Homo sapiens: one gene and its partners. The main gene of each other region encodes a partner of the protein of the gene in region 3 in a complex. Each region holds a gene or a part of one and is shown on either strand. Other genes may lie near its edges. A codon is read from its position in the direction of its gene.

What was found.
Region 1: the proteins of UBQLN2 (region 3) and PSMD4 are in contact, whole or in part, in an NMR structure (PDB 6MUN), measured with the Homo sapiens proteins. Residues at the interface, in NP_038472.2 of Homo sapiens: Lys38 (codon at 4,889), Ile75 (codon at 5,000), Phe76 (codon at 5,003), Ala77 (codon at 5,006), Gly78 (codon at 5,009), Lys79 (codon at 5,012), Ile80 (codon at 5,015), Asp94 (codon at 5,057), Gly95 (codon at 5,060), Leu96 (codon at 5,063), Thr97 (codon at 5,066), His99 (codon at 5,072), Val101 (codon at 5,078), Lys103 (codon at 5,084); in NP_002801.1 of Homo sapiens: Asp213, Glu215, Leu216, Ala219, Leu220, Val222, Ser223, Met224, Glu226, Gln227, Arg230.
Region 2: the proteins of UBQLN2 (region 3) and ADRM1 are in contact, whole or in part, in an NMR structure (PDB 2NBV), measured with the Homo sapiens proteins. Residues at the interface, in NP_038472.2 of Homo sapiens: Lys38 (codon at 4,889), Ile75 (codon at 5,000), Phe76 (codon at 5,003), Ala77 (codon at 5,006), Gly78 (codon at 5,009), Lys79 (codon at 5,012), Ile80 (codon at 5,015), Leu96 (codon at 5,063), Thr97 (codon at 5,066), His99 (codon at 5,072), Val101 (codon at 5,078), Lys103 (codon at 5,084); in NP_008933.2 of Homo sapiens: Asp54 (codon at 2,281), Ser55 (codon at 2,278), Leu56 (codon at 2,275), Asp72 (codon at 1,548), Leu73 (codon at 1,545), Ile74 (codon at 1,542), Phe76 (codon at 1,536), Pro77 (codon at 1,533), Asp78 (codon at 1,530), Asp79 (codon at 1,527), Phe98 (codon at 1,470), Lys99 (codon at 1,467), Ala100 (codon at 1,464), Gly101 (codon at 1,461), Lys103 (codon at 1,455).

What each region holds. Positions count from the first base shown.
Region 1 is NC_000001.11:151,250,591-151,257,811, reverse strand, and holds the start of PSMD4 (26S proteasome non-ATPase regulatory subunit 4), read right to left. Parts: upstream 3,079-7,221; 5' UTR 3,030-3,078; coding exon 3,004-3,029; intron 1-3,003. UniProt on the Homo sapiens protein: Component of the 26S proteasome, a multiprotein complex involved in the ATP-dependent degradation of ubiquitinated proteins.
Region 2 is NC_000020.11:62,298,262-62,306,008, reverse strand, and holds the start of ADRM1 (proteasomal ubiquitin receptor ADRM1), read right to left. Parts: upstream 3,013-7,747; 5' UTR 2,960-3,012; intron 2,442-2,959; 5' UTR 2,441-2,441; coding exon 2,228-2,440; intron 1,549-2,227; coding exon 1,432-1,548; intron 1-1,431. UniProt on the Homo sapiens protein: Component of the 26S proteasome, a multiprotein complex involved in the ATP-dependent degradation of ubiquitinated proteins.
Region 3 is NC_000023.11:56,559,097-56,566,693, forward strand, and holds the start of UBQLN2 (ubiquilin-2), read left to right. Parts: upstream 1-4,530; 5' UTR 4,531-4,777; coding exon 4,778-6,652; 3' UTR 6,653-7,597. UniProt on the Homo sapiens protein: Plays an important role in the regulation of different protein degradation mechanisms and pathways including ubiquitin-proteasome system (UPS), autophagy and the endoplasmic reticulum-associated protein degradation (ERAD) pathway.

The DNA of each region.
Region 1 (7,221 bases), on a different chromosome or scaffold from region 3:
GGGCAGATCACTTGAGGCCAGGAGTTCAAGACCAGCCTGGCCACATGGCCAAACCCCATCTTTACTAAAAATACAAAAAAAAAAAAAAAAAAAAAAGAAAGCCAGGTATGGTGGCGGGTGCCTGGAATCCCAGCTACTCAGAAGGCTGAGGCACAATAATCACTTGAACCTGAGAGGCGGAGGTTGCAATGAGCCGAGATCACACCACTGCACTCCAGCCTGGGAGACAGAGCAAGACTCTGTCTCATAAATTAATTAATTAATTAATTAAAATTGGCCATTCTTCCCACAGCAATTTACAGATTCAATGCTACTCCTATCAAACTACCAAAAACATTCTTCAAAGAACTAGAAAAAACTATTTGAAAATTCATATGGAACCAACAAAGAGCCAGAAAAGCCAAGGCAATCCTAAGCTAAAAGAACAAAGCTGGAGGCAACTTTACCCAACTTCAAACTATTACTTAGGGCTACAATAACCAAAACCGCATGGCACTGGTACAAAAACAGGCACAGAGACCAATGGGACAGAATAGAGAGTCTAGAAATAAAGCCGCACACCTATGACCATCTATTCTTTGACAAAGCTGACAAAACAAGCAGTGAGGAAAAAGAGTCCCTATTCAATAACTGGGGATACTGGCTAGGCTAGCCATATGCAGAAGATTGAAGCTGGACTCCTTTCTTATACCATACACAAAAATTAACTGAAGATGGATTAAAGACAAGGTAAAACCCAAAACTATAAAAATCCTGGAAGACCGGCCGGGCACAGTGGCTCACGCCTATAATGCCAGCACTTTGGGAGGCTGAGGCGGGCGGATCACCTGAGGGTGGGAGTTCGAGACCAGCCTGACCAACATGGAGAAACCTGGTCTCTACTAAAAACACAAAATTAGCTGGGCGTGGTGGCGCATGCCTGTAATCCCAGCTACTAAGGAGGCTGAGGCAGGAGAATCGCTTGAACACGGGAGGCGGAGGTTGCGGTGAGCCGAAGGTTGCGGGGAGCTGAGATTGTGTCATTGCACTCCAGCCTGGGCAATAAGAGCGAAAAAAAAAAAAAGTGGGCAAAGGAGCCGGGCACAGTGGCTCAACGCCTGTAATCCCTGCACTTTGGGAGGCTGAGGCGGGTGGATCACCTGAGCTCAGCAGTTTGAGACTAGCCTGGCCAACATGATGAAACCCCGTCTCTACCAAAAATACAAAAAAGCTGGGCGTGGTGGCGGGCACCTGTAATCCCAGTTACTCAGGAGGCTGAGGCAGGAGAATCACTTGAACCAGGGAGGCGGAGGTTGCAGTGAGCTGAGATGGCGCCACTGTACTCCAACCTGGGCAACAAGAGCAAAACTCCTTCTCAAAGAGAAAAAAAAAAAAAAAAGTGGGCAAAGGACATGAACAGACATCAGACACTTTATTTTTATTTATTTATTTATTTATTTATTTATTTTATTATTATTTTTTTTTTTTTGAGAGGGAGTCTCACTCTGTCGCCCAGGCTAGAGTGCAGTGGCGCCATCTCGGCTCACTGCAACCTCCACCTCCGGGGTTCAAACGATTCTCCCACCTCAGCCTCTGGAGTAGCTGGGACTACAGGCGTCCACCACCACGCCTGGCTAATTTTTGTATTTTTAGTAGAGATGGGGTTTCACCATGTTGGCCAGGCTGGTCAGTAACTCCTGACCTCAGGTGATACACCCACTTCAGCCTTCCAAAGTGCTGGGATTACAGGCCTGAGCCACGCCCCAGCCAGACACTTTTCAAAAGACGATATACATACAGCCAACAAGCCTATTAAAAAAACCTCAATATCACTGATCATTAGAGAAATGCAAATAAATCAAAACCACAACGAGATACCACCTAACACCAGTCAGAATGGCTATTACTAAAAACTAAAAAAATAACAGATGCTGGCAAGGTTGCGAGAAAAGAGAACACTGTTCTATCGTTGGTGCAAGTGTAAATTAGTTCAATCACTGGGAATCACTTGAACCAGGGAGGCGGAGGCTGCAGTGAGCCAGACTGGGCCACTGCACTCCAGTCCGGGAGACAGAGCGAGACCGTCTCAAAAAAAAATTATTCATCGTTTATCTGAAACTCAAATTTCACTGGGCATCCTGTATGTTATCTGGCAATGCTATGCTCCCCCGAGAAAATAAAAAGAAGAAATCTCATAGGTGCCTGTTTCACCCAATCGGTGATTTGTGTTCGTCAACTATTCTGTATTACATTCAGTGATTACACTTAGAAGGAACTCTTGAAACCCTGCAAAAATTTATGTCCTCCTCTTCTAATGTGACTCGTAATAGGTACTCAGCCCAAGCCTGAAACTGACAAAGAGAGCTACCTCACCGGATAAAGCCTTTGTGTCAGACAGCCGTGGGTTTAAATCTTGACTCCACCACTTAACTAGCTGTATGATTTTGGACAAATCACTTAAAATCGCTGAGACTCGGTATCCTGAACCGTAAAATGGAGAGATAATTTACCTTAAGGTGTGGTTGTGAGGTATAAGTGAGATAAACAAAATGACTGATACATAAAAAGCAATCTGTAAATGGTACCTTTGAAGATGATACAGGGAAAGGTAATGAAGTTAGAGACGAGGGAATGGGGAGAGGAAGGGATTAATAATCTATTTTCCTAATAGACGTTATTTTGCAAAGAAAGGAGGGCAGAAAACTATTACGATGAGTCCGAAAAGCAGAACTGTAGCTAAAGACAGACCCGGGCTGCTCTAGAGAAGACGGCGCTAGAACAGAGAAAGGAAGCAGGAATGACCAGTCAATGACCGTCCCCCTGGGGGTAACAGTGGTAACCCGGGACTATCCGCCACTCCAGGGCCCCGGGATGACTCAGGGAGTCCAGCGGGCTCCTTACCTCCGGGGCCAGGGCCGCCTCTCGCCCATGAGCCCCTGGCCCCCACCCCAGGCCCTCCCTGCCTTGGCGCTACACGCGCCCGGAACCCAGCTCTGCCCCTCCTGCCCCGAAGTAGCTCCTCACCACACCATAGTGCTTTCCAACACCATCTTGCCACCTTCCTCCCTCCCGACCGGGTCTCCGGGACGGCCTAACAACAACTCCTCCAATTGGCCCGTCGCTCTTCACCAATCACAGACCTCGGCTTGGCCAGCTGCTTCCGCCTCCGTCCCCCACGTTGCGTTCTGGGAGTTGTAGGTGCCGCCAAACAAATTTGTAGGCGTCTTGAGGGTAGTTGAAGGGAATCGCGGTAACACAAAAAACAGGATCTAGCCTCCACTTTCCCTGCCATTGCAGTTCTCAGTTGGGGTTTCCCGCTGGCCGGATCTCAGGGGAGCTATGGAGGAACCTTTGAAAGTGCTGTGTCGATTCCGGCTTCGGCATTTTAAAAAAGTGTCGGGATCGGCCGAGCGCGGTGGCTCACGCCTGTTAGCCCAGCACTTTGGGAGGCCAAGGCGGGCGGATCACGAGGTCAGGAGTTCGAGACCAGCCTGGCCAGCATGGTGAAACCCTGTCTCTACTAAAAATACAAAAAATTAGCCGGGCATGGTGGCGCACGCCTGTAATCCCCGCTACTCGGGAGGCTGAGGCAGGAGAATTACTTGAACCCGGGAGGCAGAGATTGCAGTGAGCCGAGATCGCGCCACTGCACTCCAGCCTGGGGGACAGAGTGAGACTCCGTCTCAAAAAAAGAAAAAAAAAAGTGTCGGGATCGCTAATGACTTTCTACAGCCCTCAGTTCCCTGTAGAATTTTAATTCAACAAGCCCTTATACCCTTCAATTGAATTTATTTGTATATTTATCTCCTCCCTCGTTTAACTAAGGGTGGGCAACGTGCCTTTTTTTTTTTTTTTTTTTTTTTTTTTTTTTTTTTTTTTGAGACGGAGGAGTCTCGCTCTTTCACCCAGGCTAGAGTGCAGTGGCTCGATCTCGGCTCACTGCAACCTCCACCTCCTGGGTTCCAGGGATTCTCCTGCCTCAGCCTCCCAGGTAGCTGGGACTACAGGGGCATTCCACCATGCCCGGCTAATTTTGTATTTTTAGTAGAGACGAGGTTTCACCATGTTGGCCAGGCTGGTCTCGATTTCCTGACCTCAGATGATCCACCCACCTCAGCTTCCCAAAGTGCTGGGATTACAGGCGTGAGCCACCACACCTGGCCGGCAACGTGTCTTAATCTTTACAATTCCCTAAGCCCAGTACAGAGCCCGGAAAAGATTTGACAACTCAATTATATTAACTAATCTGCCAAAGAACAAACCACTAAACCGTTTTGGTTAATCAAAAATTACATTCAAGGCCTGATGCAATGGCTTAGGTTTTATAATCCCAGCGTTTTGGGAGGCCCAGGCAGGAGGATCAACTCAGGCTAGGAGTCTGAGACCAGCCTGGACAACACAGCCAGACTCCGTCTCTACAAAGTTTTATTGTTTGAGACAGGGTGTCGCTCTGTTGCCCAGATTGGAGTGCAGTGGCCTGATCTCGGCTCACTGCAATCTCCACCTCCCGGGTTCAAGCCATCCTCCTGCCTCAGCCTCCTGAGTAGCTGGGGCTATAGGTGCATGCCACCAAGCCCAGCTAATTTGTTTTTAATTTTTTGATGTGGGAGGATGGCTTGAGCGCATGAGTTCGAGACCAGCGTAGGCAACATAGCCAGACCCCATCTCTGAAAAAAAAAAAGTCTCAAAGTGTTGGGATTACAGGCGTGAGCCATCACATCAGCTGGATATTTGATATTAAGCAATTTTTTTAGGCATGATAATAGTGTTAAAGTTATCACCCTTATAAAAGTAGGCTTTATTAAGGGTTATATGTTGTATTCATAGATAAAAAAAGTATATGAAGTTTGGGATTTAACTTAATCCTCTGGAAGAAACAAATAGTTTTGTTTTTTGAGACAGGGTCTCAAAGTAAAACAAAAGAGACAAGGTCTCACTGGGCTGGAGTGCAGCAGTGGTGCAATCATACATAGCTCACTGCAACCTCTAACTCCTGGCCTCCCATCTCAGCCTCCGAAAACTGGGATTACAGGCTTGAGCCACTGCACCCGGCCACGCTGGTCTTATTTATGTTGATAATTATTGAGGCTGGGTTATGTGTACATAGTGGTTCACCATACTACTCTACTTTTGGTTTGGAAATTCCCATAATGAAAAAAAGAAGGCCAGCTGGGCACGGTGGCTCACGCCTGTAATCCCAGCACTGAGAGGCCGAGGTGGGCAGATCACTTGAGGTTGGGAGTCCGAGACCAGCCTGGATACCCCCGTCGCTACAAAAAAATACAAAAATTAGCTGATTGTGATGGTGCCAGCCTGTAGTCCCAGCTACTTGAGAGACTGAGGTAGGAAAGTCGCCTGAGCCCAGAAAGTCAAGGCTAGAGTGAGCTGAGATTGCTCTGGGTAACAGAGCAAGACTAAAAAAGAAAACCAAGGCTGGGAAATCTCAGCACTTTGGGAGGCCGAGGCGGACGGATCATAAGTTCAGGAGATCGAGAACATCTTGGCCAACATGGTGAAATCCCATCCTACTAAAGATACAAAAATTAGCCGGGCATTGTGGTGGGTGCCTATAGTCCCAGCTACTCTGGAGGCTGAGGCAGGAGAATCACTTGAATCCGGGAGGAAAAGGTTGCAGTGAGCCGAGATCGTGCTATTGTACTCCAACCTGCGCGACAAGAGTGAAACTCCGTCTCAAAAAAAGAAAAACAAAACTAATAAAGAATGAGACTTCATCTCTGAATACATCTCAGAATAGCTGAGATTGACATGCTTAAGGGTAAAATATCAGACCAGATGACGATTTCCAACTTTATTATCCTATGATTTTAATTTCTCTTTTAGTTAGAAGTTTTACACTAATAGACCCTACTTGTATCTGAATATAAATTAGAGCATATAGCTAGAGAATAAGCACTAGTCGCTGCTCACCGCTAGAGGGACCCTCTGATCATAAGAGGATTATCTACACCACCCATTCAGTAGTTTTGAGTACACTCTGAGTGACAAGGTCAGGGATGCAGAACATTTATGCCTAAAACATGTTAACCTCCAATTCCTATTAGGGAAAAAAGTTTTCTCCTTATCCAGACAAAAGGAGGACTGGCTGGGGCTGTGGGAAAATCAAATTCAAAACTTTGAGAATCTGGGCCGAATGCAGTGGCTCACGCCTGTAATCCCAGCACTTTGGGAGGCCGAGGTGAGCGGATCACTTGAGGCTAGGAGTTTGAGACCAGCCTGGCCAACATGGTGAAATCTGTCTCAAAAAAAAAAAAAAAAAAAAGAAAGAAAGAAAGAAAAAGAAAAGAAAAATGAAAAGAAACTTTGAGAATCCCCCATTCCTCTTCCAATCCAAGTACTTGCTTTTTCTTTCTTCTTTTTTTTTTTTTTTTTTTTTTTGAGATGGAGTGTCACTCTGTTGCCAGGGTGGAGTGCAATGAATGGTGCAATCTCAGCTCACTGCAACCTCTGCCTCCTGGGTTCAAGCGATTCTCCTGTCTCAGCCTCCCGAGTAGCTGGGATTACAGGCGCCCGCCACCATGCCCGGTTAATTTTTTTTTTTTTTTTTTTTTTTTGAGAAGGAGTTTCACTCTTGCTGCCCAGGCTGGAGTGCAAGGGCTCGATCTTGGCTCACCGCAACCTCTGCCTCTCAGGTTCAAGCGATTGTCTTGCCTCAGCATCCCAAGTAGCTGGGATTACAGGCGTGCACCCACCACGCCCAGCTAATTTTTTGTATTTTTAGTAAAGATGGGTTTTCTCCATGTTGGTCATGCTGGTTCTCCCTGTTGGTCGAACTCCCAACCTCAGATGATCTGCTCGCCTCGTCATCCCAAAGTGCCGGGATTACGAGCGTGAGCCACCGCGCCTGGCCTAATTTTTGTATTTTTAGTAGAGATGGTGTTTCGCATTGTTGGCCAGGCTGCTCTTGAACTCCTGGCCTCAAGTGATCCACCCATCTTGGCCTCCCAAAGTGCTGGGATTACAGGTGTGAGCCACTGGACTTGGCCAATCCTCTGTTTAATTCTGATGGAACTTTGTTAGTCTCTCAATTATTTTGTATCACATCCTATTGGGGCAAAAAATATTTCAGGGTTCCCAATATTGCCTCTAACTATACTTATTCCAATATTCTCATCATGATCTCTTCCTTGTTCTCAAAAACAGACCATTCTCATGCATCTAGGTCCTTGTGCTGAAGTGAAACATTCTCTTAACACTTCTTTCGCACGTAACTGCTAATTTTTC
Region 2 (7,747 bases), on a different chromosome or scaffold from region 3:
CGATGCTCTGCGCCCTGTCCCCATCCGCCGCAATCCCGGGTGTGCCCTGTCCCCCTCCGCCCATTTCACAAATGGGGAGCCTAGAGCTCCGAAGGCACTTAGCTGCTGCCAGACCAAGCCCTCTCACCCTCCTGCCCTCTGGGGTGCGGTTCTTTACACACCCGTCTCCTTCCTTCAACCAGTGGAAGGCAGCGAACTGGCCCGCTCAGCACACCGCGGCCCAGGGCCACGGCAGGCGCTCACAATCGAGCACACGCGTGTGCACACACATGTGCACAGATCAGTGTCAGAAGCATCGACCTGCGAGCTCACAGAGCTGGGAGCAGAGCACCCACGCACACCCCGAATGGCTATGGAAGCTGCAGGGCGCCAGGGACACTGGGAGTCCCTGCTCTCATGGCAAAGCAGGGACGGGGGACTTAAAAGCCACCAACAGGAAAATCGGGGAAAAAAGGGAGATGGTGGTAACAGTTGGACACTATTTCTTGGCAAAACCGTGGAAAAACACGTTCTACACCAGCAGGTGGCAAATTGTGGCCGCCATCTGTGTTTGCAAATAAAGTTTAACTGGAGTTTGGCTATGCCTGTTCATTTTCTCAGGCCGCTGCACACTACTTGCACAGGTGACCAGCAACACAGACCATGTGCTCCACAGAGACCTCAGCCAGGGCCACCCCTGCTCTTGAAAGTGCCAAGGGGGGTGGGGTGGGGACAGCAGCTCCACCTCTGGCAGAGAGCATGGCCTTCTCTCTCCACACTGCAAACGCATGCACACGCTTCCTGACCACAGGCCCGCCACCAGTTTTCACCTACAGATGATACTGGCTTATGGAAAATGATCTGTGTACCGGGAAATTCTTTGCAACACTGCCTGTAACAGCACAAAAAACGGCAACAAGCTCAATGGTCACTGACAGATGGCAGAATGAGCAGCGGCCTCTAGACCCAAAAGACGCTCTGCAGCTGTGGGTAAGAGAAACCCTGGGCACTGACACCCCTGGCCTCCAGGACACACTGCCAGGGAAGGGGCAGGACTGTGGAAAGTGTGAGCAGGATGCTTCGTTTCTGTGAGCACCAGCAGGGAAGCCACACAGGGGCCTCTGCCTCTGCTGTGGGGGCCTCAGTGACCCACGGCAAGGGGCAGAGAGAGGGCACTGGGCATCGTTAGAACCAGGGCCAGCATGTCTGTCTGCCTGGAAATTTCACACCGCAATCGGTTGCCCGCAGCCCAGCCTGGAGCCTCCGTACTCTGGGAGAGGACCTCGGCCCCAGGTAGCATGCACCGCAGCCCTGAGGTGGCATCTCAGGCCGTGTGGCCGGGTGTGGCCGGCGCCTGCTGGTTTATAAAAGCCAATTGCACCACACTGTAAGCAAGTTCCTAACCGAATCGCAGGGCAACAAAAAGGCACAACCCCAAGGCCTGCCCCATACCTGCATCCAGAAGAAAAGCCGCTTGGACCCTGCCTTGAACTTCAGCACGTAGACCCTCCCGCTGGGGCACTGCGGCACCCGCTTGAACTCACAGTCGTCAGGGAAGATGATCAAGTCCTGGCAAGCCAGGGGAAGAGAGAGTCAGTGGCGCAGATGGCATCACTGTGCCCAGTCTCAGGAGAGCGTACTGAGCCCTGGGTCTAACCGGGTGGGGTGCGCAAGGGGCAGCTAAGCCGCCAGACCCCTCGCTGGCAGGGTCTCCACAAGGCAGAGAAGCCAGGGTCAGAGACAGCCCATGAAAGGCAAGGCCGGGGGAGAGAGCAGGGAAAGGGGCCTTTCAGATGGCAACGGGGTTTCTGAGACGTGCTGGAAACAACATTCCCAGAGTAGTTAAAAAGTCAACGCTGAACTGCTCTCAAATGTAACAAAGAACAACTAAGAGTTTGAAAAACAAAGAAGACTGAGTGAAGCCGCCAGGCACAGAGCTCCAGGCTCTCCAGGGCCACACCTCCAACCCCAGGCACCTCACACGGACAGTTCAAGGCCAGGCACAGAGCTCCGGGCTCTCCAGGGCCACACCTCCAACCCAGGCACCTCACACGGACAGTTCAAGATACACAGTGGCCGAGATGCCCCTGTCACCGCGGAAACCAGGACGACCCATCAGCAGGGCAGTCGATGACGGCCCCACGAGCGGTCCCCAGATGCGGCCAAGCCCCCACCGCGAACTCCAAAGCGAGGACTCCGAGGGCCCGAGAAGTCGCCTGTCCTGCTGCTGCGGCTCAGGGACACTCACGTCTTCCACGTTCCCGGACGTCCTGTCCTTCCAGCAGAAGTGAATAAGCGAGTCGTCCGTCTGCTGAATGTACACCAGCCCTTTCCGCTTATCCGGAGTCACGGTGGTCCCCTTCAGGGACATCTTTCCCGCCCGAAACTCCACCAAGTACTTGTTGGAGGCGCCCCGAGAGCCTGGCACCAGGCTTGGAAAGAGCGCGCCTGAGGTCGTCATCCTGAAAGCGCGGAGAGGACGCTGAGACGCGGCGGTCACTGTCGCCTGCGGTCCGGCAAGCTCCCGCCCCCTGGGGTGTTTGCGAGCAGGGGGCCTGCGCCCAGAGCTGCCTAAGGCAGACTCAGACACGCCGGGCTGCCTTTCCGCGTTTGCCCCGCTCACGACGATCGCACCGCCCGCACTCGGCGCTGGGCCGGGGCAGCCCCGCCAAGCCTAGTGGGGCCGGCCCTAGGCTTGACGCCGTCTCCGCGGGGCACCAGCCTCGACGCGCCACCCCGGCGACCCGCTCCGCGGGGCAGACCCGCCCGAGCTCCCGCCGAGCCCCACGTTCAGAGCCGCAGGCGGAACCGGGGCGGCGCCCGAGACCCCAGAACCCCCGCCCGGCCCGGCCCCCGCAGGCCCCACCCGCCGCGCCGGCCACCTTCTCGTCTTGGCTGCCCCCGCCCCATCCTTGGTCCAGCAGCCCCTGCCCCCGCCTCCGGTCGCCCCCGGCCGCCCCAGGCCCGGCGACTCCCGCACCTGCCTCGCGCCCACACTCGTTCGAGAGGCGCCGTCCGGGCTCGCTCTTCCTCCTCGGCGCCTGCCGGGCCCCGCCGGAAACCCGCGTTCGGCCCGCCCCGCCTGCCGCTCTCGCCGCCGATTGAGCCCCGTAAGCCGCGCAGCCGGCTCTAACCTGCCAACGATTGGCGAGGGCGACCGTCCATCGCACTCGCTCCTCCCCGGTCCGCCCCCGCGCCGGCGGCTCTTTTCCGGCGGAAGCGCGGGCCGCAGGGCGCTTGGACCAGAGCGGCCCCTATTGTTGCTGTGTCATAGGGGAGCGGCGGCGGCCCCTAGAGGCGGCGCCAGGGACCACAGGCGGGTTTCAGAGGGGCGCTGGGGAACTGCTCAGGTGGGGCCGAGCCCACCCCTCGGCGTCGCCCGCCCGGGCGGGCAGAGCTGTCACTCGTGTGGCTGAGCCAGGGGTTAGGCGGAGGCCGAGGAGTGCGGTCCGGCTGTGGGCGGCGGGCACCAGGGCTACGCATAGAAGTGACCATGGGTTCAGCGCTTTGGGGACCCAGGCGGGAGCTGGAGTCCACGCGTCCGGGAGAGCAGGGGTCCGGGAGGGTAGAGCGAGGGTGAGAACCGTGATATGGTCTCAGCTGTATACATCTAGTCCCGCAGGGGTCCGGGAGGGCAGGGGTCAGGAAGGGGTGGGTCCGGGAGGAGAGGGGTCCCGAGAGGGGAGGGGCTCCTGGAGGGGAGGGATCTGGGAGGGGTGAGTCCGGGAGGGGAGGGGTTCCCGGAGGGGAGGGGGCCCGGGAGGGGAGAGGGTCCCGGAGGGGAGGGATCTGGGAGGGGTGAGTCCGGGAGGGAGGAGTCAGGGAAGGCCTGAGTCCCAGACGGGTAGGGTCCTGGAAGGGAGGGGTCCTGGAGGGCAGGGGCTCACCCTCTGGACGCCTGGATGGGAAAGGCCACAGGGTAAAAAGGCGGCAGTCGCCCGCCAGTGTTGTGTAACTTTGAGTCACTTTGACACAAACTAAAGCGAAGACAACAGATAGTGTTTGTGGCGCCCCAGCCGGCTGCTGAAGGGACACGTTCTTTGGGATTTGCCTACAGCGACGCCAGGCGGGGGCTCTTAGAGGGCTCAGGCGCGGTGGCTCACGCCTGTAAACCCAGAACTTTGGGAGGCCGAGGCGGGCGGATTACTTGAGGCCAGGAGTTCAAGACCAGCCTGGGCAACATGGTGAATGAAACCCCGACTCTACTAAAAATGCAAAAATTAGCCAGGTATGCTGGCACATGCCTGTAATTCCATCTACTCAGGAGGCTGATGCACGAGAATCGCCTGAACCCGGGAGGTGGAGGTTGCAGTGAGCCGAGATTGCACCACTGCACTCCAGCCTGGGCGACAGAGGAAGACTCCTTCTCAAAAAAAAAAAATAATAATAATAATAGTAATAAAATAGAGAGGTCAGGCGCTTCGTGAGAACCCTGAGGTGCAGTGGCCTCTGCACCCCAGTTAAGCAAGACTAGATGTTTGCAGCTGAGACTGTGCCAGGGTCCTCAGGTTCTCCTTTGCCCATCGCTCACTTCCTTCTTTCCTTCAGATACTTCACTCCCTTCGGGCGCTCCCCGGGGTCACCGTGTGCTTGGTGGCTCACCCTCAGAGTGGATGCACAGCTGTGTGCTTACGTGCTCTCTGAGGTCTTTAGGTGTGTGTTTTCACTCACCCTTGTTGGGAGATGCGTTGGTGTTGATGCTGGCAGCTCCAGTCCTTTCATTCTGCAGGGAGCCTACTACTCAGGCCTCCATTGTCTCGGTGGCAGAGCTTGTGCCAGTTATGTTTAGTTGCCAGCTTTTGACTGTCATAATGCTTCCATTTGAAACATTGATTGAGCTAAAGATTCACGTTTTTTGTTTTGGAAAATGTAGCCACTTTTCATTTTAAAATGTGTGTTAACAGGTAGTAAGTTTGTTATTGTTATTTTTATGTAGCTAAATAATTTTAAATGTCCTCTTAATTCCTAGTATGGTAAATGTCAATAGATAAAGCTCACATAAACAAAAGCTCTTTGGGGTCCTGTATAATTTTTAAGAATTTAAACGGTTCCAGAAGCTAAAGGGCTTGAGAGGGGCTAACACAAAGCTCTGTGGCCCGCTGGTGACAGGTGCGTCACTGATACTGCAGCCCCATCCTCGTGCCCTCGTGTAAAACAGGGAAAAGGTGGAAATGAGAAAACCCAGCCTGGCTTTCCCGGCAAGAAGGTGGCAAGCGTCACTTGTTTATGTCACAGACAGTAAAGCAGAAGCCCCAGGGTCCGCAGGGGCCAAGTGTGCAGAGGCCAACGCAGTGGCCAAGAGGACCCTGGATTTACCATTTCCTCCACTTCCTGGAGGCCCTGTGGCCTGGGATGGCTCAAACAACCCCAGAACTCTTTACCCACACTTCAAGCGAAACTCCCACATTCCTATGAGCATGCTGCAGTGAGGAAACGAGCCGCAGCCAGGCAGGCTTTGCAGAGGCCACTGTGGGTGCCCGCTGCCAGCCCACGGGCTCTATGCGTGTGTGGGGTATGGCACCTGGAGCACCCAGCAGCCCAGGACTCCAGCTGTGGCCACAGAGTGGGTGGGGGGGCACACGCTGCTTTGTGTCAGGAATCTCGGACTTGAAGCACACACAAGGTCAGAAGGGCTGTGTGACATGTGCAGCTGTCCCTATCTTCTAATTGGTCGCTGATGGCAGTTGGTGGGACGTCTGCAAAATGCCCGCAGCATCTAGAGGAGCAGCCTCACCGGGACACGCGCATTCAGCTAAAGGATTTGGACTAAGAGATCCCCCAAAAGAGATTTCTATTCATCCTGTTTAGCAAAAAAAAAACAACCCCAGACTTGCATGATGGCTCACACCTGCAATCCCAGCACTTTGGGAGGCCGAGCTGAGAGGGTCCCTTGAAGCCCAGGAGTTCCAAGACCAGCTTAATCAAGACAGTGAGACCCTGTCTTTAGAAAAAGACAAATTAAAAAAGAGCCAGCCATGGCGGTGCATGCCTGTAGTCTCAGCTACTTGGGAGGCTGAGGTGAAGGTCAAGGCTGGCGGTGAGCCGTGATGGCACCACTGCACTGCAGCCTGGGTGACAGAGCGAGACCCTGTCTCAAAAAAGCCCCAAACTGTAAAGAAAGCACACCCTGATGCTCTCCACGTGCTGCAGGCTCCTCGGGTGAAAGGTGGGCGGCAGAGCCCAGGCTGCGCCTCCACGTGGGCAGAAGACACCTCCGGATGTTTCACCAAAGAGGTCACAGGCAGCAAAGGCACCATGGCAAGCTGCTCAACACCATTATTCATGAGGGAAATGCAAATGAAATACACCTGCTGGAACTTAGCAAACGATGGAAGGTGCCAGGCAAAGTTGGAAACACCAATGGCACGGCTACTTCGGAAAAGCATTTGGCAGGGGTAGGGTTTTTTAAACTTTTTTTTTTTTTTTTTTTTTTTTGAGATGGAATCTCACTCTATCCCATAGGCTGGAGTGCAGTGGCTTGATCTCAGCTCATTGCAGCCCCCGCCTCCTGAGTTCAAGCAGTTCTCCTACCTCAGCCTCCTGAGTAGCTGGGATTACAGGCATGTGTCACCAGACCCGGTTAATTTTTGTATTTTTATTAGAGACAGGGTTTCACCATGTGGGCCAGGTTGGTCTCGAACTCCTGAGCTTGAGCGATCCACCCGCCTCAACCTCCCAAAGGCTGGGATTACAGGTGTGAGCCACTGCACCTTGTGGGTTTTTTTTTTTTTTAACATTTTAAAAATAGACAAGTCACAACTGAGTGGAAGGCAGAGAGTTCTGGTCCCCCTGGGTGTTCGGTGAGCTACGCCGCCACCGGGTCAGCGCCCAGAGCCCGCCATTCGCGTCGAGGTCCACGTCGGTCCATCTGTGCTGCCACCACTGACCAGGCAGTTTACAAAGAAGCGAAACGTACTTTCTCACAGTTCTGCAGGTCCGGAAGTCAGCGTCAGTGGGGCGGCAGGCCTGGTTGTCTGGTGAGCGCTGTCCTCACCTGGCGTGGCACTGATGCTCTGTGGGGCAGACCAGGCAGTGTGGGAGGAGCCTCTGGCTCCGGGCTCAGGCAATGGTGGTGGAGCCCCACAGCCAAACCCCTGGAGCATTCCGAGAGCATGGACGTCTTGTGGACCGTGTGTCCCTCTGCCCCAGCCACACTGACCACTGGGACGACTGAGTCTGCTCAGCTTACGCTCCTGAAAAGCACGAAGGTGCTGGGGCAACTTACGGCAGAAGGCAGGCAGCTGAAACCTGGGGCACCGGGCCCTTCGCTGCTTCTAGCAGTAGCGTCCCCCCGCCAGGGGAGGGGGGTCCATCAGAGCCTCCTGCTGCTTGGAGAACCTGGGTGCTCCACCCATCACATGTGCCGCCCGACAGGTGTCACGAGTGTCCCCCAGCCCCCTCTCCACAGGGCAGTTTTTGGAAATGAGCCATTTGCTTGGCCAATCCTCAGGAACACGCGGTCCAAACTTCTGATAACCAGGCATGAGGACTCATCCTTAGCAGATTTGTAGCCCTTTTCAAAATGGCCAGAGCGGCTGAGATGGTGAAAAATTGCTCAGTGTAAAACAAAGGTCACCTGCTGCCCATCTTCAGAGAATCTTCATTCAAATCTTAGAGGTTAACATTTATTTTCACAGATGTGTACACAGCCCTCTGAAAAATCTGAGGATGACTGTGTTAATGCAGTTTGGCACTGACAGTTGTTAAATATTATAAAATAAGTGCGTTCTGCTGGCATCTTTTCTCAGCTGCCATGTCCTTGCTGCCT
Region 3 (7,597 bases):
CCCAGCAGATTATGAGTTACCTCTTTCCTGTACTACTACTACTAATGATAATAATACTTCTATAGTGGATACTATGAGCAGGAAACTTGTAGGTGCTTAAAATACGTTAATTTATTTGATTATCAAAATAGTCCATCATTTTATAAATGAAGAATACTGAAGTACAGAAAAGTTAAGTTATTTGCCAAAGTCATGCAGTTTACAATCAGAGGTAATAGAACCAGGATTTGAACTTAGGCAGTCTTTATTGACTATGTCTAGATTGGATATTATATTGGTCTTTTAAATTTTATAGACAAAAAGTATTTCACAGTTACTTTAATTTGTATTTTTTTATTTAAAGGAGATAACATATTTTTTCTTCCTTTTCTCCCTTTCTTCCTTCTTTCCTTTTTCTTTTCATTCTGACTTTTTTTTTCTTTTGTAAGATACTGGTTAACATCCTTTGCCTATTTTTCCCTTGGAGCGTTCATTTTTTAAAAATTTGTAAGAAGTGTCTGTATGTCATGGATAGATCTCATGCGTTATATATGTTGCAATTTTTTTGTTTGTCTTTAACTGCTTAATTTTTATTACATTGTTGATATATAGTTTAAAATTCTTATTTAATGAAATCTATTAATTTTTTCCATCCATGATTTTTCTTTGTCATTTTCATCAGGTTACCATCATGCCTAGCTTATGTAAATATTTGCCCTAATATATTTCTGCAAATTTTATGATTTCATTTTTTAATCTAGAATTTATTTTGATATTTAACTTAAAAGTTCATTGATGGCACTCTTTCCACCTTTTCAAAACTGTTATGAGGTTGTTATTTTTCTCATTCCTGTCACTGCAGTGGGATTTGGTAAAGAGAGAGGGTAAAAAACGTAAGCTCAGCAGCCACTATGAACAAGAAAGCTGATTTTTAAAATAACTAGTTATTTACTTTCTTGTAACCCAGGCTGGAGTGTGGTGGCATGATCAAGGCTTACTGTTCGGGGGTTATTATTTTTCTCATTTCTGTCACTTCAGTGGGATTTGGTAAAGAGAGAGGGTAAAAAACGTAAGCTCAGCAGCCACTACGAACAAGAAAGGTGATTTTTAGAATAACTAGTTATTTACTTTCTTGTAACCCAGGCTGAAGTGTGGTGGCATGATCAAGGCTTACTGCAACTTTCACCTCCCAGGCCCAAGCGATCCTCCCACCTCATCCTCCCATGTAGCTTGGATTATAGGCACTAGCCATCAAGCTCAGCTAGTTTAAAAAAAAAAAAATTGTAGAGATGGGGTCCCGCCATGTTACCCAGGCTGTTCTTGAACCTGGGCTCAAGGAATACGCCTGACTTGGCCTCCCAAAGTGTTGGGATTACAGGCATGAAACACTGCACCTGGCCTTGTTCATTTTCTTACATGTCTCTTACATGGTTTGTTAAGATCTTCTACTTCTGGAATATATTTTGGCCATATCTATCTTCCTAGAAATGTAGTCATCAGGGCTTTTTTTTTTTTTTTTTGTCATTAGCCAATCTTTTTACAACGTATTTCTTTTTTATTAAAAAAAAAATCTCCTTCATCTGTGACTAAATGTATTCACACAATACTAGTTCGTATATTTTTCTTGGTGCTTTCTTTGTTTCAGCTAATTAATGCTGTCCTTTTCCCTAATGAGGATACGTATGTTCTACTACTAAAATGTTAATTTTATTTCATTGTAACTTAAAACATTAAAAGTAATATATTTTGAAGTAAAATGTCAAAAAATCACAATCACATAATTTTTAAGGTAAAGAAAGATAATGCAAAGAAGTGTGTTTCTGGAAGGTTTCCTCAAGAGGGTGAGTATGGTTTTGCCCCTCTGATGTGTATTTTGGTGAGGGAATTGTCAGCCAAGACAATCGCCAATTAATAAAGATTTGTGTATTTGACTTGATTCTTCAAATACTTTCTTAGATTTACTTAACAAATTTTATTTTTTCTGTTTGTTAATTCATTAATATTTGCTTTTATCATTCTATAGCTGTCACCTCACTTCCCTCCTTTTATTTTCCGTTGCCTTCTTTATTCGAATGCCTACTTCCCTTATTTTCAATCTGTTGTTTGATATTTTAAGTCTTTGAATGTATAAATTTGACTCTGAGTTCATCCACATAGTACTTAATAAATGAAATAATATTAAACTGGACCTTGATACAAATGCAGCTTCCAGTGCACCACTTATTTCAGTAGGTTTGGCGTGGGGCCTAGAAACATGCATTCTTAACAATGTTCTCAGATCACACGTAGAAAAATCCTAGCATTAGTATTGCTGTATATGCTCTCATTATCATTATTTTTGTAAATTTATTCTAATAAGAACATTGCACTTTGCCCCAAAAGTATTCAGTTATGTTTTAATAATCAAATGGTTGGTTTTTTGTTCATACTTTGATTATTAATATCTAGCTTTATTCTATGGAAATTAAAGATTACCTATAATATTTTCATATTCTCACCACCCATAATTAACTATTGCTGATATTTTATCATATTTGCTTTCATTTTAAAGATAAAAAGCATTTTTACATATTTAAGTTCCCTTTACTCACTATCCTGTATCCTATTCCATTTCCTCTTCCTCATGGGTGCAAGTTTGGTATATTTCTAAAAGAATATTTCAAATATACATAAGAATGTATTAGAGTGCTGTTTGGCATGTATTAGGTTGGTGCAAAAGTAATTGCGGTTTTTGCTATTACTTTCAATGGCAAAAACCATTGTATAATAGTAACAATTCGTTACTTTCAATGGCAAAAACCGCAATTACTTTTGCATCAACCTAATACTAATTAATTTGGCTTTTTAGATCTATACATATTAACATATTTAAAGCTAGTCATCTTTTTACCTCTGTATTTTATTAATTATATTAATAAAATAGAGAGGTAAAATAATATTAATTCTTCCATTTCTCCATCGATGGATATAACATACCTGTATATATATATTTTTCTTATCTTCAGATTTATTAAAGTATTTGTGACCTAATGACTTTGAAATGCTGTTAAATGTTGAAAGCAGTGGTGCTTTGGTGGATGCTTGGTAGAGGGTGGGGGTTGGGGAAGAATTTTCTGTGTGGTTTAACCTAGAGTTAGAAATATATAGATAAATTTGAAATTATTTCTTCTATTTTTCAAGTTCTCTTTCTCAGCATTGCTACATCTTTATTGCTCTTACTTAATCTGTAATTAAATTAGGTAAATATGTCAATGTTTGCCACTACTATTATGTGCCTGTCAATTTCTACCCATACTCTTCCCCAAAATACCTTTCTGTAGTGCATACTTACAAAAATCATCAGAAAATTCAAAATCTTATGAAAATAGAAAATAAGAATTATTCATAATTTCAGCAAACAGTACTAACAGCCATTAACTTATTTGTGCATAGCCTTCCAGATTTTTTTACACATACGGTTTACATATACAACAAACTGTTCAAAAATTGCTTTTAAAATAAAAATATATTTATTGTATTTTTGATATTGGAACATATATTCTTATATAGTTTGTAACTGTACAGAAATATACAAAGGCATAATTGAAAATACTCTGTGATTTCCCTATAACTACAGTTTATTTCATGTATACCTTTAAAGACACTCTATATTTTCTTGTATGGTAATATGATAATGTGCTCAACTAATCTCATGTAAACAGATAGTTAATATATTTAAATAACATTTTAAAATGCTACAATGTATATACATTTTATACATAAATATTTTTGCATCCTCATCCGATTATTAGGCGAAGTGTCTAGGTTAGGCATTTCTAAATAAAGGTGGAAACATTCAAAATGCTGATATATATTTTCAAATTGCCCTATGGTTGTAACAATTCACACTTCAGCTAGCCTGAGAGGGCATTTTTTAGGGTCCCTGTCAACAAGAAGGTTTACCATTATTTTTTTCCCTGCCAATATGATAAGCCAAAAGTAGAATTTTATTGTTTTAACTTGATTTCTTTTTATTAGTAGTGAAATTAATCATCCTTTTTTAATGTCTATTGGCCATTTGCACTCCTTTTGTAAAATGCACGCTCCTGCTCTGTCTTCTTCCCTTCCCCTACTGGAGGTGTTCCTCTTTTCTTTTTGCTTTGTCAGAGTTCTTTATTATTCATTTTTCGTCTTATACGTGGGATCTGTTCGATTCAGGCTTTCACCCTTTTACTGCCTTACAGATTGCTAATATACATTCTCCATTGGTCTTTTAATGTCGTTTACAGAAGCTGACTCTCTACCGCCTCCTTCTCTCCGTCTCACCCTCTCTGCCTCGCCTGCTCTGTACTGTTCTGTTCTCTTCTCTCTCTCCCTTTGTTTCTCTCTCTCCCTTTTTTCTTTTCAGTGCAGAAGTTTTTAATTTTGACCGAGCCAAATCTATCAATCTAGGCCTGGCGCCGCGTCAGCAGAGGGGGCGGGGAGGCGAGCGCGGAACTGGGGGAGGGGAAGGGGCGGGGATCAGCAGGCGGAGCGGCTGCCAGAGTTGCTGGGAGTGCGCGCGGTCGGATCACAAGGCGGCGGCGGAGGAGGCCCAGAGACCGGAGCGCGGAGACCTCAGCCAGCGGCCTACGCCCAGGCCTTTCTCCACCGGAGGACCAGGGAACCGCAGTCTTCATCACAGAGGTACCGTGCTCCGCGCTCCCCGCCTGACCCGGCCCAGCCCGCTGCGGCGGTGCCTCCTTCCTTCCTCCTTCCCTCGCGCTCTCTCTTTCGCCCGCCCGCGCCTTCCCTGCCCGCCTGCGTCACCGCGGCCGCCATGGCTGAGAATGGCGAGAGCAGCGGCCCCCCGCGCCCCTCCCGCGGCCCTGCTGCGGCCCAAGGCTCGGCTGCTGCCCCGGCTGAGCCTAAAATCATCAAAGTCACGGTGAAGACTCCCAAAGAGAAAGAGGAGTTCGCGGTGCCCGAGAACAGCTCGGTTCAGCAGTTTAAGGAAGCGATTTCGAAACGCTTCAAATCCCAAACCGATCAGCTAGTGCTGATTTTTGCCGGAAAAATCTTAAAAGATCAAGATACCTTGATCCAGCATGGCATCCATGATGGGCTGACTGTTCACCTTGTCATCAAAAGCCAGAACCGACCTCAGGGCCAGTCCACGCAGCCTAGCAATGCCGCGGGAACTAACACTACCTCGGCGTCGACTCCCAGGAGTAACTCCACACCTATTTCCACAAATAGCAACCCGTTTGGGTTGGGGAGCCTGGGAGGACTTGCAGGCCTTAGCAGCCTGGGCTTGAGCTCGACCAACTTCTCTGAGCTCCAGAGCCAGATGCAGCAGCAGCTTATGGCCAGCCCTGAGATGATGATCCAAATAATGGAAAATCCCTTTGTTCAGAGCATGCTTTCGAATCCCGATCTGATGAGGCAGCTCATTATGGCTAATCCACAGATGCAGCAATTGATTCAGAGAAACCCAGAAATCAGTCACCTGCTCAACAACCCAGACATAATGAGGCAGACACTCGAAATTGCCAGGAATCCAGCCATGATGCAAGAGATGATGAGAAATCAAGACCTGGCTCTTAGCAATCTAGAAAGCATCCCAGGTGGCTATAATGCTTTACGGCGCATGTACACTGACATTCAAGAGCCGATGCTGAATGCCGCACAAGAGCAGTTTGGGGGTAATCCATTTGCCTCCGTGGGGAGTAGTTCCTCCTCTGGGGAAGGTACGCAGCCTTCCCGCACAGAAAATCGCGATCCACTACCCAATCCATGGGCACCACCGCCAGCTACCCAGAGTTCTGCAACTACCAGCACGACCACAAGCACTGGTAGTGGGTCTGGCAATAGTTCCAGCAATGCTACTGGGAACACCGTTGCTGCCGCTAATTATGTCGCCAGCATCTTTAGTACCCCAGGCATGCAGAGCCTGCTGCAACAGATAACTGAAAACCCCCAGCTGATTCAGAATATGCTGTCGGCGCCCTACATGAGAAGCATGATGCAGTCGCTGAGCCAGAATCCAGATTTGGCTGCACAGATGATGCTGAATAGCCCGCTGTTTACTGCAAATCCTCAGCTGCAGGAGCAGATGCGGCCACAGCTCCCAGCCTTCCTGCAGCAGATGCAGAATCCAGACACACTATCAGCCATGTCAAACCCAAGAGCAATGCAGGCTTTAATGCAGATCCAGCAGGGGCTACAGACATTAGCCACTGAAGCACCTGGCCTGATTCCGAGCTTCACTCCAGGTGTGGGGGTGGGGGTGCTGGGAACCGCTATAGGCCCTGTAGGCCCAGTCACCCCCATAGGCCCCATAGGCCCTATAGTCCCTTTTACCCCCATAGGCCCCATTGGGCCCATAGGACCCACTGGCCCTGCAGCCCCCCCTGGCTCCACCGGCTCTGGTGGCCCCACGGGGCCTACTGTGTCCAGCGCTGCACCTAGTGAAACCACGAGTCCTACATCAGAATCTGGACCCAACCAGCAGTTCATTCAGCAAATGGTGCAGGCCCTGGCTGGAGCAAATGCTCCACAGCTGCCGAATCCAGAAGTCAGATTTCAGCAACAACTGGAACAGCTCAACGCAATGGGGTTCTTAAACCGTGAAGCAAACTTGCAGGCCCTAATAGCAACAGGAGGCGACATCAATGCAGCCATTGAAAGGCTGCTGGGCTCCCAGCCATCGTAATCACATTTCTGTACCTGGAAAAAAAATGTATCTTATTTTTGATAATGGCTCTTAAATCTTTAAACACACACACAAAATCGTTCTTTACTTTCATTTTGATTCTTTTAAATCTGTCTAGTTGTAAGTCTAATATGATGCATTTTAAGATGGAGTCCCTCCCTCCTACTTCCCTCACTCCCTTTCTCCTTTGCTTATTTTTCCTACCTTCCCTTCCTCTTGTCTCCCCACTCCCTCCCTCTTTGTTTCCTTCCTTCCTTATTTCCTTTAGTTTCCTTCCTTAGCCGTTTTGAGTGGTGGGAATCAATGCTGTTTCACTCAAAAGTGTTGCATGCAAACACTTCTCTTTATTCTGCATTTATTGTGATTTTTGGAAACAGGTATCAACCTTCACAGTTGGGTGAACAAGTGTTGTCCTACAGATGTCCAATTTATTTGCATTTTTAAACATTAGCCTATGATAGTAATTTAATGTAGAATGAAGATATTAAAAACAGAAGCAAATTATTTGAAGCTCTCTAATTTGTGGTACGATATTGCTTATTGTGACTTTGGCATGTATTTTTGCTAGCAAAATGCTGTAAGATTTATACCATTGATCTTTTTTGCTATATTTGTATACAGTACAGTAAGCACAATTGGCACTGTACATCTAAAAATATTACAGTAGAATCTGAGTGTAATATGTGTAACCAAAATGAGAAAGAATACAAGAAATGTTTCTGGAGCTAGTTATGTCTCACAATTTTGTAGAATCTTACAGCATCTTTGATAAACTTCTCAGTGAAAATGTTGGCTAGGCAAGTTCAGTTAAAATATAGTAGAAATGTTTATCCTGGTATCTCTAAGTATACATTTAATTGTACAGAAAATTTACAGTGTAACATTGTGTCAACATTTGCAGATTGACTGTATATGACCTTAATCTTTGTGCAGCCTGAAGGATCA